3 linked regions of the Homo sapiens genome follow. The protein of the gene in region 1 interacts with the protein of each later gene in a biochemical or structural test. Each region holds a gene or a part of one and is shown on either strand. Other genes may lie near its edges. The genes, in order: H4C7, KMT5B and KMT5C.

The links.
Region 2: of the proteins of H4C7 (region 1) and KMT5B, one has a biochemical effect on the other in vitro, tested with the Homo sapiens proteins (one study listed by BioGRID).
Region 3: of the proteins of H4C7 (region 1) and KMT5C, one has a biochemical effect on the other in vitro, tested with the Homo sapiens proteins (one study listed by BioGRID).

The regions. Positions count from the first base shown.
Region 1 is NC_000006.12:26,245,981-26,249,239, reverse strand, and holds H4C7 (histone H4-like protein type G), read left to right. Parts: upstream 1-2,243; 5' UTR 2,244-2,262; coding exon 2,263-2,559; 3' UTR 2,560-2,629; downstream 2,630-3,259. UniProt on the Homo sapiens protein: Core component of nucleosome. Nucleosomes wrap and compact DNA into chromatin, limiting DNA accessibility to the cellular machineries which require DNA as a template.
Region 2 is NC_000011.10:68,206,568-68,210,315, forward strand, and holds part of KMT5B (histone-lysine N-methyltransferase KMT5B), read right to left. Parts: intron 1-3,748. UniProt on the Homo sapiens protein: Histone methyltransferase that specifically methylates monomethylated 'Lys-20' (H4K20me1) and dimethylated 'Lys-20' (H4K20me2) of histone H4 to produce respectively dimethylated 'Lys-20' (H4K20me2) and trimethylated 'Lys-20' (H4K20me3) and thus regulates transcription and maintenance of genome integrity.
Region 3 is NC_000019.10:55,337,919-55,341,666, forward strand, and holds the start of KMT5C (histone-lysine N-methyltransferase KMT5C), read left to right. Parts: upstream 1-1,957; 5' UTR 1,958-2,039; exon of another isoform or gene 2,040-2,796; intron 2,797-3,748. UniProt on the Homo sapiens protein: Histone methyltransferase that specifically methylates monomethylated 'Lys-20' (H4K20me1) and dimethylated 'Lys-20' (H4K20me2) of histone H4 to produce respectively dimethylated 'Lys-20' (H4K20me2) and trimethylated 'Lys-20' (H4K20me3) and thus regulates transcription and maintenance of genome integrity.

The sequences.
Region 1 (3,259 bases):
GGCTAATTTTGTAGCTTTAGTAGAGACGGGGGTTTCACCATGTTGGCTATGATTGGTCTGGAACTCCTGACCTCAGGTGATGTGACTCCTTGGCCTCCCAAAGTGCTAGGATTACAGGCGTAATCCACCGTGCCCAGCGCAATTTCTTGTTATTCTAGTAATTTAATCAGCCTGGCCAACATGGAGAAACCCTGTCTACTATAAATACAAAAAATTAGCCGGACGTGGTAGCAGGCAACTGTAATCCCAGCGACTAGGGAGGCTGAGGCAGAAGAATCACTTGAACCTGGGAGGTGGAGGTTGCAGTGAGCCGGGATCGTGCCACTGCACTCCAGCCTGGGCTACAGAGTGAGACCCCGCCTCAAAAAAAAAAAAAAAAAAAAAAAAAAAAAATCTAATTATTTCAAAATAATGTAGAAATAGGCTGTGATGGGATTGCTGCTTTTATTGCTTGGAATTCCATGGTTTATCAAGTTTGTTTGTTTGTTTTCCCCACAAATAGTTGTTTGCACTCTTGGCTTTTTGTTGTGGTGACCTGCTCATTAGGCCATAATTCATTTATGCAGTTACATGATTTTTTAGATATTGCTGACCCTGCTTCAAAAACCCATGATCTTTAGGACTGTTTGTTTGGTGCATCGTAACTGCACAATAAAAAATCCATTGTTATTTTGAACATTCTATTTTAGAGACATCATTTATTTCCACTTAAATGCTCTCGTTTAACTAGCTCAGCAAGTATTTTGTAATGTAAAAATTTAGTGGTGCTTATGTCTTTATTTTGGCTTGTGAGCAAATTCCCCTTTTCTCCTATTAACATTTATGACAGCTTTCCCTGAGTTTCCTGTTGTATCAACCCCAGAAGACAGTCACCCCCTGTACCTTCTGTCCTCCACATGAGAACAGGGCATGGAGCCTCTGGCAATTTACATTATCTTTTTTCTGGGCAATTCTTCATTGCTTAATTGTATAGTGCTTAATATAAGTGAAAGCACACTGAATGTATTGGTGTTGCAAAGGCAATGTTTTAAAATCCTTCGGTGTGCTTTACCTCTGCATTATTATTTTGTCTGTAAAAAAAGGCTGTGGCAATAAGAATTCGTTTACCAACTGGCCGGTGAGGTGGCTCACGCCTGTAATCCCAGCACTTTGGGAGGCCAAGGCGGGCGGATCACCTGAGGGCAGGAGTTGGAGACCAGCCTGGCCAACGTGAAATCTGGTCTCTACTAAAATACAAAAATGAGCCGGGAGTGGTGGCACATACCTGTAATTCCAGCTACTTGGGAGGCCGAGGTAGGAGAATAGCTTGAACCCAGAAGGTGGAGGTTGCAGTGGGCAGAGATTGCGCCATTGCACTCCAGCCTGGGCAACAAGAGCGAAACTCCGTATTTTAAAAAAAAATCATTTACTAACTATATGCCAGTGTTTTGCTTAAAGTAACTCAATTATTAACAAGTATTTACCCTTTTTACAGATAGGGCCATTGAAACTCAGATTAACATGTCTAATATCGGTGAGAGAGCAGTCACTCACAGATTCGAAACCAAAAACCAGGCTACTTCTCTTTAGCTGGGCGGCTTGGCAATATGATTAGGAATTCTTTTATGTCTTGGAATTTGGGCTTGTTTCAACTTCAGCATGGTAAATGCTCTAATATACAGGGAAGGAGTAAATCTTTTTTTTTTCTTTTTTGAGACGGGCTTCGCCCTTGCCCAGGCTAGAGTGCAGTGACGTGATCTCGGCTCACTGCAGGCTCCACCCCACGGGGTTCATGCCATTCTTCTGCCTCAGCCTCCTGCATAGCTGGGACTACAGGCGCCCGCCACCTCGCCCTGCTAATTTTTTGTATTTTTATTAGAGACAGGGTTTCACCGTGTTAGCCAGGATGGTCTCGATCTCCTGAGCTCGTGATCCGCCCGCCTCGGCCTCCAAAAGTGCTGGGATTACAGGCGTGAGCCACCGCGCCCGGCCAGGAGTAAATCTTTAAACACATACAGACATCAAAAATCGAGATACTTTCCTCTAGGTACATGTTTGACACTTTCGTTTAGAGATCCTTATTCTCTAAATGCCAGCAAATCTCCCTACTACAAGAGAATTTCTTATGTCTTGTTATTACTAGAAGTAGATGAGCGGGGACTGAATACGTTTTCCCGCCTTTCCTGGTCTTTCAGTTTTCAAAAAGGTCTACTCTACCGTTATATAAAAGGCTGCGGAAAGCGAGTAATCGTTTTGTTTAGAGATAGTTCTGACTTGTTTATCATGTCTGTTCGGGGCAAGGCCGGAAAAGGCCTTGGGAAAGGCGGTGCCAAGTGCCATCGCAAGGTACTGAGCGATAATATTCAGGGCATTACCAAGTGCACTATCCGGCGCTTGGCCCGGCATGGCGGTGTCAAGCGCATCTTGGGCCTCATTTATGAGGAGACCCGCCGGGTGTTCAAGGTGTTCCTGGAAAATGTGATCTGGTACGCCGTGACCAACACGGAGCACGCCAAGCGCAAGACGGTCACCGCCATGGCCGTGGTCTACGTGCTCAAACGCCAGGGAAGAACCCTGTAAGGCTTTGGCGGTTAAGTGAGGCCAGGCCTTTCCTTGCAATATCGTTAATGGCCCTTTTCAGGGCCGCGTACGTTTTCTTCCGAAGGGCTCACGTTTGACATTGTGGAAACTTAACTAACGCACTCAGCAATATTGTGTGTTTTATTGCTGTAGGTGCCCAAAAGCTGTTAGGTGTATAATGCTGTAAAGTATAAATTTACGCCAAGGCTGACATACAACATGGAATACAGGTGGTAAGTTAATCGTGTGTTCAGAGATTAGAAATCTGGTGGGCTGGCTGAGGACATCAACGGCTACATTGTCACTTAAAAGCTCTCAAAATGTGGTTATGGTAGTGTGTTTTTCTCCTTACTGTTAGGATTACCCTCCGTAATTAAAATTGTAGTTTTAGTGCCAAGATAACCCGACTTTTATATTCTGCTTAATAAGCAATTTCAATAACCAGAGAATACACAATAATTAGCACAAACTTGCCAGGTGCCGTTCTGACAAATGTGTCTGCAGTGGAGGGACTGGCCCCCTTGCTAGTTCAATGATCTAATTTAGCAGCACTAAAAGAAGTTTACCTGTTTCGTGCCTTTGCTTGTGATCCATCGTAAATATAGAAACACCTTGATAAGGTGTAACTGCAATAATTCGTGTCTCAATTTACTGTTTATGAAAGTACAGGGGTCAAAGAGCCAATTAAACATCTCAAGAG
Region 2 (3,748 bases), on another chromosome or scaffold:
CAGCAGTGTGAGCAGACGAGTTATTTAACTTCACCGATGCCCCACCAGTACAATGAAAAGAAGGCCTCCCTAGGTTTGGCACAAGATATTTTAAATGAGCACAAACTGCTAACAAATTAAGGTCTCCCCTTCCAAGTAACTAAGGCAAAAGTAAAGCAGGCCAGAAACATTCTTCACAAAACTTTAATCAAGTAGAAATTTCCCTTCTATTCCCCACCATAACTCACACATGAAAAAAAAAATCTCATCACCTCACCCATTTAAAAAAGAACAAATGTGCAAAAGAATAATTATGACACAAGGCTGAGCACCAGTTCTGCTTTCCCTACAGTTCCCAAAGAGAAGGAATGTAACTTCTGGCTGCAACACGCATGATTAAAAATCATGCCAAGCAGCAGGGCACAGTGGCTCACGTCTGTAATCCCAGCACTTTGGGAGGCTGAGGCGGGCGGATCACGAGGTCAGGAGATCGAGACCATCCTGGCTAACACGGTGAAACCCCGTCTCCACTAAAAATACAAAAAATTAGCCGGGCATGGTGGCGGCTGAGGCAGGAGAATGGTGTGAACCTGGGAGGCGGAGCTTGCAGTGAGCCAAGATTGCGCCACTGCACTCCAGCCTCGGCGACAGAGCGAGACTCCGTTTCAAAAAAAAAAAAAAAATCATGCCAAGCTACATCTCCCATCCTAAACATTCAGAGGGACCACAGACTGGACTACAGAGCTTCTTACAACACAGTTTAGTTTGTGGTGTACCTGGTCAAACAGATTATTTTCACACCCTATAAAAGAAGATACAAACATCACTGCCCTTTAACACACACTCAATACTATCATCCCCATTTTACAAATGAGAACAAAACTCAGAGAATTAGAAAAAAAACTGAAGTGAAGTCCAGGCTGAGAGACTGTGTACTGTTAATATCACACAAAAAAGCAACACAGGCCAGGCACGGTGGCTCACGCCTGTAATCCCAGCACTTTGGGAGGCCGAGGTGGGCGGATCACGAGGTCAAGAATTCGAGACCAGCCTGGCGAACATAGTGAAAATCCATTTCTACTAAAAATACAAAAATTAGCCAGGCATGGTGGCACCTGCCCGTAGTCCCAGCTACTCGGGAGGCTGAGGCAGGAGAATCGCTTGAACCCAGGAGGCAGAGGTTGTGGTGAACCAAGATCGTGCCACTGCACTCCAGCTTGGGCAACAGAGTGAGACTCCATCTCAAAAAAAAAAAAAAAACAAACCAAAAAACAACACAGAATAATGACCCAAACAAATTTTTTATTTTTTTAGACGCTGTCTCGCTCTATTGCCCAGGCTGGAGTGCAGTGGCACGATCTCTGCTCACTGCAACCTCTGCCTCCCAGGTTCAAGGAATTCTCTGTCTCAGCCTCCCGAGTAGCAGGAATTACAGGTGCCCACCACCACGCCCAGCTAATTTTTGTATTTTCAGTAGAGACAGCGTTTCACCATGTTGGCCAGGATGGTCTTGAACTCCTGACCACGTGATTCACCTGTCTCGGCCTCCCAAAGTGCTGAGGTTACAGGCGTGAGCCATCACGCCTGGCCCCAAACAAATTTTTAAACACACTTCGCCCAAGCCAGGCACGGTGGCTCACGCCTGTAATCCCAGCACTTTAGGAGGCCGAGGCGGGAGGGTCACGAGGTCAGGAGTTCAAGACCAGCCTGGCCAACATGGTGAAACCCCGTCTCTACTAAAAATACAAAAGTTAGCTAGGCGTGGTGGCATGTGGCTGTAATCCCAGCTACTCGGGAGGCTGAGGCAGGAGAATTGCATGAACCGGGACCTGGGAGGTGGAGGTTGCAATGAGCCAAGATCGCGCCACTGCACTCCAGCCTGGGCAACAGAGTGAGACTCTGTCTCCAAACAAACAAACAAAAAAACCACTGTGCCCCATATTTGAAGAGTAAAACTCTAGAGCAAAATAGACATCGTTCCTGACTGCATAGAGGTCAGAGCATACTATGGGAAGAGATGTAAGTAAGTATGTGGTTATCAATCTGATGCGAGCTGTAAGAAAAACAAACAGGATGTTAGGAGAGAGACTAATGTAAGAATGGACTTGAGATGGGATGATCAGGGAAATATAAATCAAAATTGTAAATATAAAAACAAGACCAGACATGGCAGCTCATCCTATAATCCCAGCACTTTGGGAGGCCAAGGCGAGATGATTGCTTGGGCCCAGGAGACTAAGGCTGCAGTGAACTGGGATTATGCCACTGCTCTCCAGCCTGGGAGGCTACAAGACCCTGTCTCAAAAACAAACAAACAAAAAATACCTTTTTTGGGTCAAAAGCCCTCCTGGTACTTATTTATATGCACCAAACAAATATTTGCTTTAAACCCTCCAGGACCCTGAATGACGTCTGGTTTTGTTTCCTTTCCAAGGGGGAAAGTGAAGGGGGGTTTCCTATGGTGCCACTGGCTCACTGGCTGAAGGATCAAGCCCCCTTTTACTTCTCAGTGAGGAAAGCTGCAGCTTCCTAAAATCAGATTGGTTTTCTTACTAAAAATATCTATTTCTCCATATGATGCAACATAAACATTGCCTCGAAAATAAAAATACTCCTCAGAGACCATTAAAATGTATCATACATTTCAACCGTGTTATACAAATCAGACAGGCAAAACAATTCATCGGGCCGACCTAGAATCCACTCAGTTCAACAAACTTATGAAGAACCTCCCAGAGCTGCCAGGCACTGTTCGTGGTGCTGGAATACTGGTCATGTCCAGGGAACACTAGAGGGCGTATGAGAGCTTCTACTTTCAGGAAAATCAGTCGTTGAGTCAGGGAAGAAAACCAAACAGATGCATAAGGGGAAAAAAAGTTAACAGGGTAGAAAAGTACAGACTAGGAAGCAGAATGACCCTTCACTGAATGGGCCTTTTGCGTAAGGCCTGAGAAGCAAGCCGAGTGCCATTAGAGATGTGCTGACCAGGCATTCCTATAAAGGTGGCACAAGGTAGAAACACAGGTGTCACAACACACACATTCGGTTTCTACTGGTTCCCCTAACATGCAGGACTCGGGATTCGCTAGCTCAGCAACCCTATCAGGTGAAACAGGTATTAGCACTACAACAAGGAGGCTAAAGCTCAGAAACAAATTGCTTTCCTAAACTCAAAGTGCTACTAAGTGGTAAGGGTGGGTCTAAAACCTTCATCTTTAAACTGCAGTCTGGGGTTTACTCCAGTGCTTGAGCCACGTGTACCACCTAGAGGTTTATCACCAGCAAATGATCCCCGGATCTAGGTACTGTTTTCTTTCCCCCTTTTTTTTTTTTTTTAAGAGACGGAGTCTTGCTCTGTCGCCCAGGCTGGAGTGCAGTGGAGCCATCTCTGCTCACTGCAACCTCCAACTCCCGGGTTCACACCATTCTCCTGCCTCAACCTCCGGAGTAGCTGGGACTACAGGCTAATTTTTGTATTTTTAGTAGAGACGGGGTTTCACCGTGTTAGCCAAGATGATCTCAATTCCTGACCTCGTGATCCACCCGCCTCGGCCTCCCAAAGTGCTGGGATTACAGGCGTGAGCCACCGTACCCGGCCGGTACTGTTTTCTTTAGTGTGCTATTACAACAGACAAACTAAGACAGCTTATAGAAATGCAACTGGCATTGTAGGAGTCATACAGGCCCCCAATCAAGCTTTGGGGGGGGGGACACTGATACCCTAGTCTCTCAATTCTAAAACCCAACTGATTAACTATCTCATAATGAC
Region 3 (3,748 bases), on another chromosome or scaffold:
CCCAGCTACTCAGGAGGCTGAGGCTGTAGGATCGCTTGAACCCAGGAGGTCGAGGCTGCAGTGAGCCATCCTTGCACCACTGCACTCCAGCCTGGGCAACAGAGGAAGACCCTGTCTCAAAACACAATACAGGCCAGGCATGGTGGCTCATGCCTGTAATCCCAGCACTTTGGGAGGCTGAGGTGGGTGGATCACCTGAGGTCAGGAGTTCGAGACCAGCCTGACCAACATGGTGAAACCCCGTATCTACTAAAAAAAAAAAAAAAAAAAAAAATTAGCCGGGCATGGTAGTGCATGCCTGTAATCCCAACTATTTGGGAGGCTGAAGCAGGAAAATCGCTTGAACCTGGGCGGCGGAGGTTGCAGTGAGCCGACATCGCACCATTCCACTCCAGCCTGGGCAACAAGAGGGAACTCTGTCTAAAAAAAAATTAGCCAGGGGTGGTAGTGCATGCCTGTAATCCCAGCTACTTGGGAGGCTGAGGCAGGAGAATCGTTTGAACCTGGGAAGCAGAGGCTGCAGTGAGCCGAGATCACTCCACTGCACTCTAGCCTGGGCGAGAGAGCGATACTCTGTCTCTGTCTCTCTCTCTCTCTCTCTCTCTCTCTCTCTCTCTCTCTCTCTCTCTCTCTCACACACACACACACACACACACACACACACACCAAAACACCAAAAACAGCACACCAAAACAGCACCTACTCTGTGGCATGCATTGTTTTAAGTGCCCACGATCTATAGCTGTACAGTGGAGCGCATGTCTGACAGTGATCCTATATGTGTAGACACACAAGCGCCTACATTGTGTTACCGGACAGTAACATGCTGCACAGCTGTGTGGCCCAGGAGCCGCCGGCCACCTTACAGCCCAGGTGCCAGCAGCCCTGCCACGTAGGTGTGAGTGATGTTGCTCTAGGATGCTGGCAGGATGACGACATCGCCTGAGCACGCACTGCCCAGATGGTATCAGTGTCGTTAAGGGAAGAATGGCTGTGGCGAAACAAACAAACAAGCAAACAAAGACCGCCTGTTCTGAGTGTGGAGCTTATTATTCTCGGCGTAATTATGATGAATTGTTAGTTACGTTTGCCTCTAGGATTGAGGTAGGGGGGGTGATCCCAATTAGGGGGTGCCCCAGGGGAGCGCCCCAGGAGTCAGGGCTTGTCTCAAAAGTCCCCACTCCTCCCTCAGCCTCCCCTCCCTCCATCCGACCCCGTTCATATCGCGGGAAGGTCCCACAGAGTGCGTGTGGATACTCCCAAAACGCAACGGTGTAAACGGGGAGGGAGGGAGAGAGACTGAGGAGCCCTTTGTAGCCAGGCAGAGCTGTCAATAAAGTTTCGTCGCCTTGGTAACCGCAGGCCTCGCGGGGCGGGAGGGGAGAGGGATGGCGGTGCGCGCGCATTCACCGCCTCCCTCCCGCCGGGTCTGGCTTTCTCCCTCCTGTGGCCGAAGCTTTCCTCGGAGAAATAGAAGAGGGAGGCCGCGACTCTATGGTGATGGACGGAGGCCTTACCCAATGGAAAGAGGAGCTGTCCCAAGGCCAGGCAATCATATACGACTACTGGAGCTGGCAGAGCCCGCCCTCTTTCCACTTGGACCTGAATAACCCGACCCAAACCGAGTTTCGCCCGGAGAGACTGCGCTTTCGGCCAATGAGTGCGTCGATTTCGAGCCCCAGTGTGAGCGAAGGCGGGACAAGTCTCCATGGCAGCGACTAAAGGACAGCGATGTGAACCACTGACAACAGTTCGCGGCGTTTGACGGCGGCGGGGGCGTGGCGGGGTTTTATCTGTGTATTGACGAGAGCCGGGCGCGGAGGGAAAGAGTGGGGCTTGGCCAATGGGAGCGCCGTGAGCTTCGTAGCAACGGAGGAGTGGCGGTGGCTGTGGCCAATAGAAAGCCTCAGTGGCCTTGGCGGGGCTGGCCCGGAGAGCAGATGGGAGGTGCGGCGACAGTGTTTGACGAGAGCCGAAGGAGGCTGTGGGAGGTGTTGGCGGCGGCGGCGCGGGCGCCTGAGGAGGAGGAGGAGAAGCGGGTGAGGGGCGGCGCGGGGCCCGATCTCTGAGCCCCTTCACGGCCCCAGCCCCGCGCCGCCTTGGCTCCCCAGTCGCCCCCTGCCCCGACTGCCCCCCACCCCGCCCGGCCCCTCCTCGTGTCCAGGCGCCCACGTCTCCCGGCCCCTCGCCGGGCCTCGGGCTCCGCGGCACTGCAGCCTCCTTCCTGTGCTTCCTCACCCGGGCCCTGACCCCCTTCTTACGTCCACGGCCCTCCCTGCATCCTCAGGGCCTCTCCCTGACCTCTTGTCACTCTCCAGGCCTCTCCCTGCACCCCCCAGGGCCTTTCCCTGACCTCACCCTCCAGGCCTCTCCCTGCACCCCCAGGTCTCTCCCTGCACCCTCAGGGCCTCTCCCTGACCCTTCTCTCACCCCCGGGACCTCCCTGCACTCCCAGGGCCAATCCCCGACCTCCTCTCACCCTCCAGGCCTCCTTCTGGACCCTCTAGGTCTTTCTGTGCCCTAGAACCTCTCCCTGACCCCTCTGTCCCTCTCCTGGCACTCCCTGGACCCTGAGGTCGGCCTCTGACCCTCCAGGTCCCTTGCCCTGGGCTCTCACCGCCTACCCAGGCGCCTCCCTGGGTCCCCAGGCCCTTCCCTAGGGTCTCCCTTTCCTGGATCCCCCAGGACCCCACCAAGCCCGTTTGGATCCCTGGGCCCCTGTCCGCCCTCTCAGGCCCTTCACTCACTGGACACCCAGGATCTTCTCCGCCATCCCTGGACCGCCCCCCGACCCAGGTCTCCCGTCTGGCTCCTCCCTGAGTCCCTAGGCCATTCCCCGCTCTCTGTCCTCCCTGGCACCCCCATCCCTTCCTCACACCCCTCTGAGCGCCCCCAGGCCCGGCTGCAGCCTTCTCCCTCCCACAGCCCCCTGCCGTGCCCACCGCTGTGCGTTTCTCTCCTTGCCCCCAGCCCCCTCTCCAGCTTCCCCGCTGTCCCTGGCGTCCTCCTGCAGCGCCCCCTCTTTCTCTCCCGCAGCCTCGCAGTCTGTCCCCGACCCCTCCACAGCCGTCTCTGCAGCTCCCGCTCCTTGCCCTGCCCCATCTCCTCCTCTCCTGGGCGCGGATGAGCCTCGAGCGCCGTGGTGCGGGGACGAGGCTGGCCCTCCGTCCGGGTTAGGGGTTTGGGTGGTTTTCTTCATCTCTCCGTTCTCTCCTGGCTCCGCTTTAAAAAAATGTTTTTGTAAATATTGACCTGTGCTGCCTCCCCATAGTCTTCCTTTGCTCCCCTCCCCACCCCCGCTTTTGTCCTCTGAGCCCCCCTCCCCTGGAATCCTTGGAGAGGGAGCAGGTGCTGGGATCCCTCCCCTGCCCTCCCTCCCGTCACCCGCCTCCAGGCTGCCTGGGGCTTCACCCGGAGCCTCCTGACCACTCCCGAAGGCTGCCGGGGAGGCAGGGGGCGGAGACCGAGGCTGGGTCGAGGTGGGGGTGGAGGGCGGGACCTCGGGCTGGCGGGAAGCTTTGACTTTTCCTCCTTGAGGGCTAGAGGTGAAGCGGCTCCCCACGGTGCTAAGCCTTTAGGGTGATCCCGGCTGCCAATCAGTCAGCCTTCTCTGGGCCCAAAGAGATGTGTGTGTGTAGGGGGTCTCTGTACATATGGGCAGGGGCATCTGCGTGTGTCAGTCTGAGTGTGCATGGGTGTGCATGTGGGGGTTGTGTGTTTAGGGGGGATCTGTGTCTGCGCTGCGGAG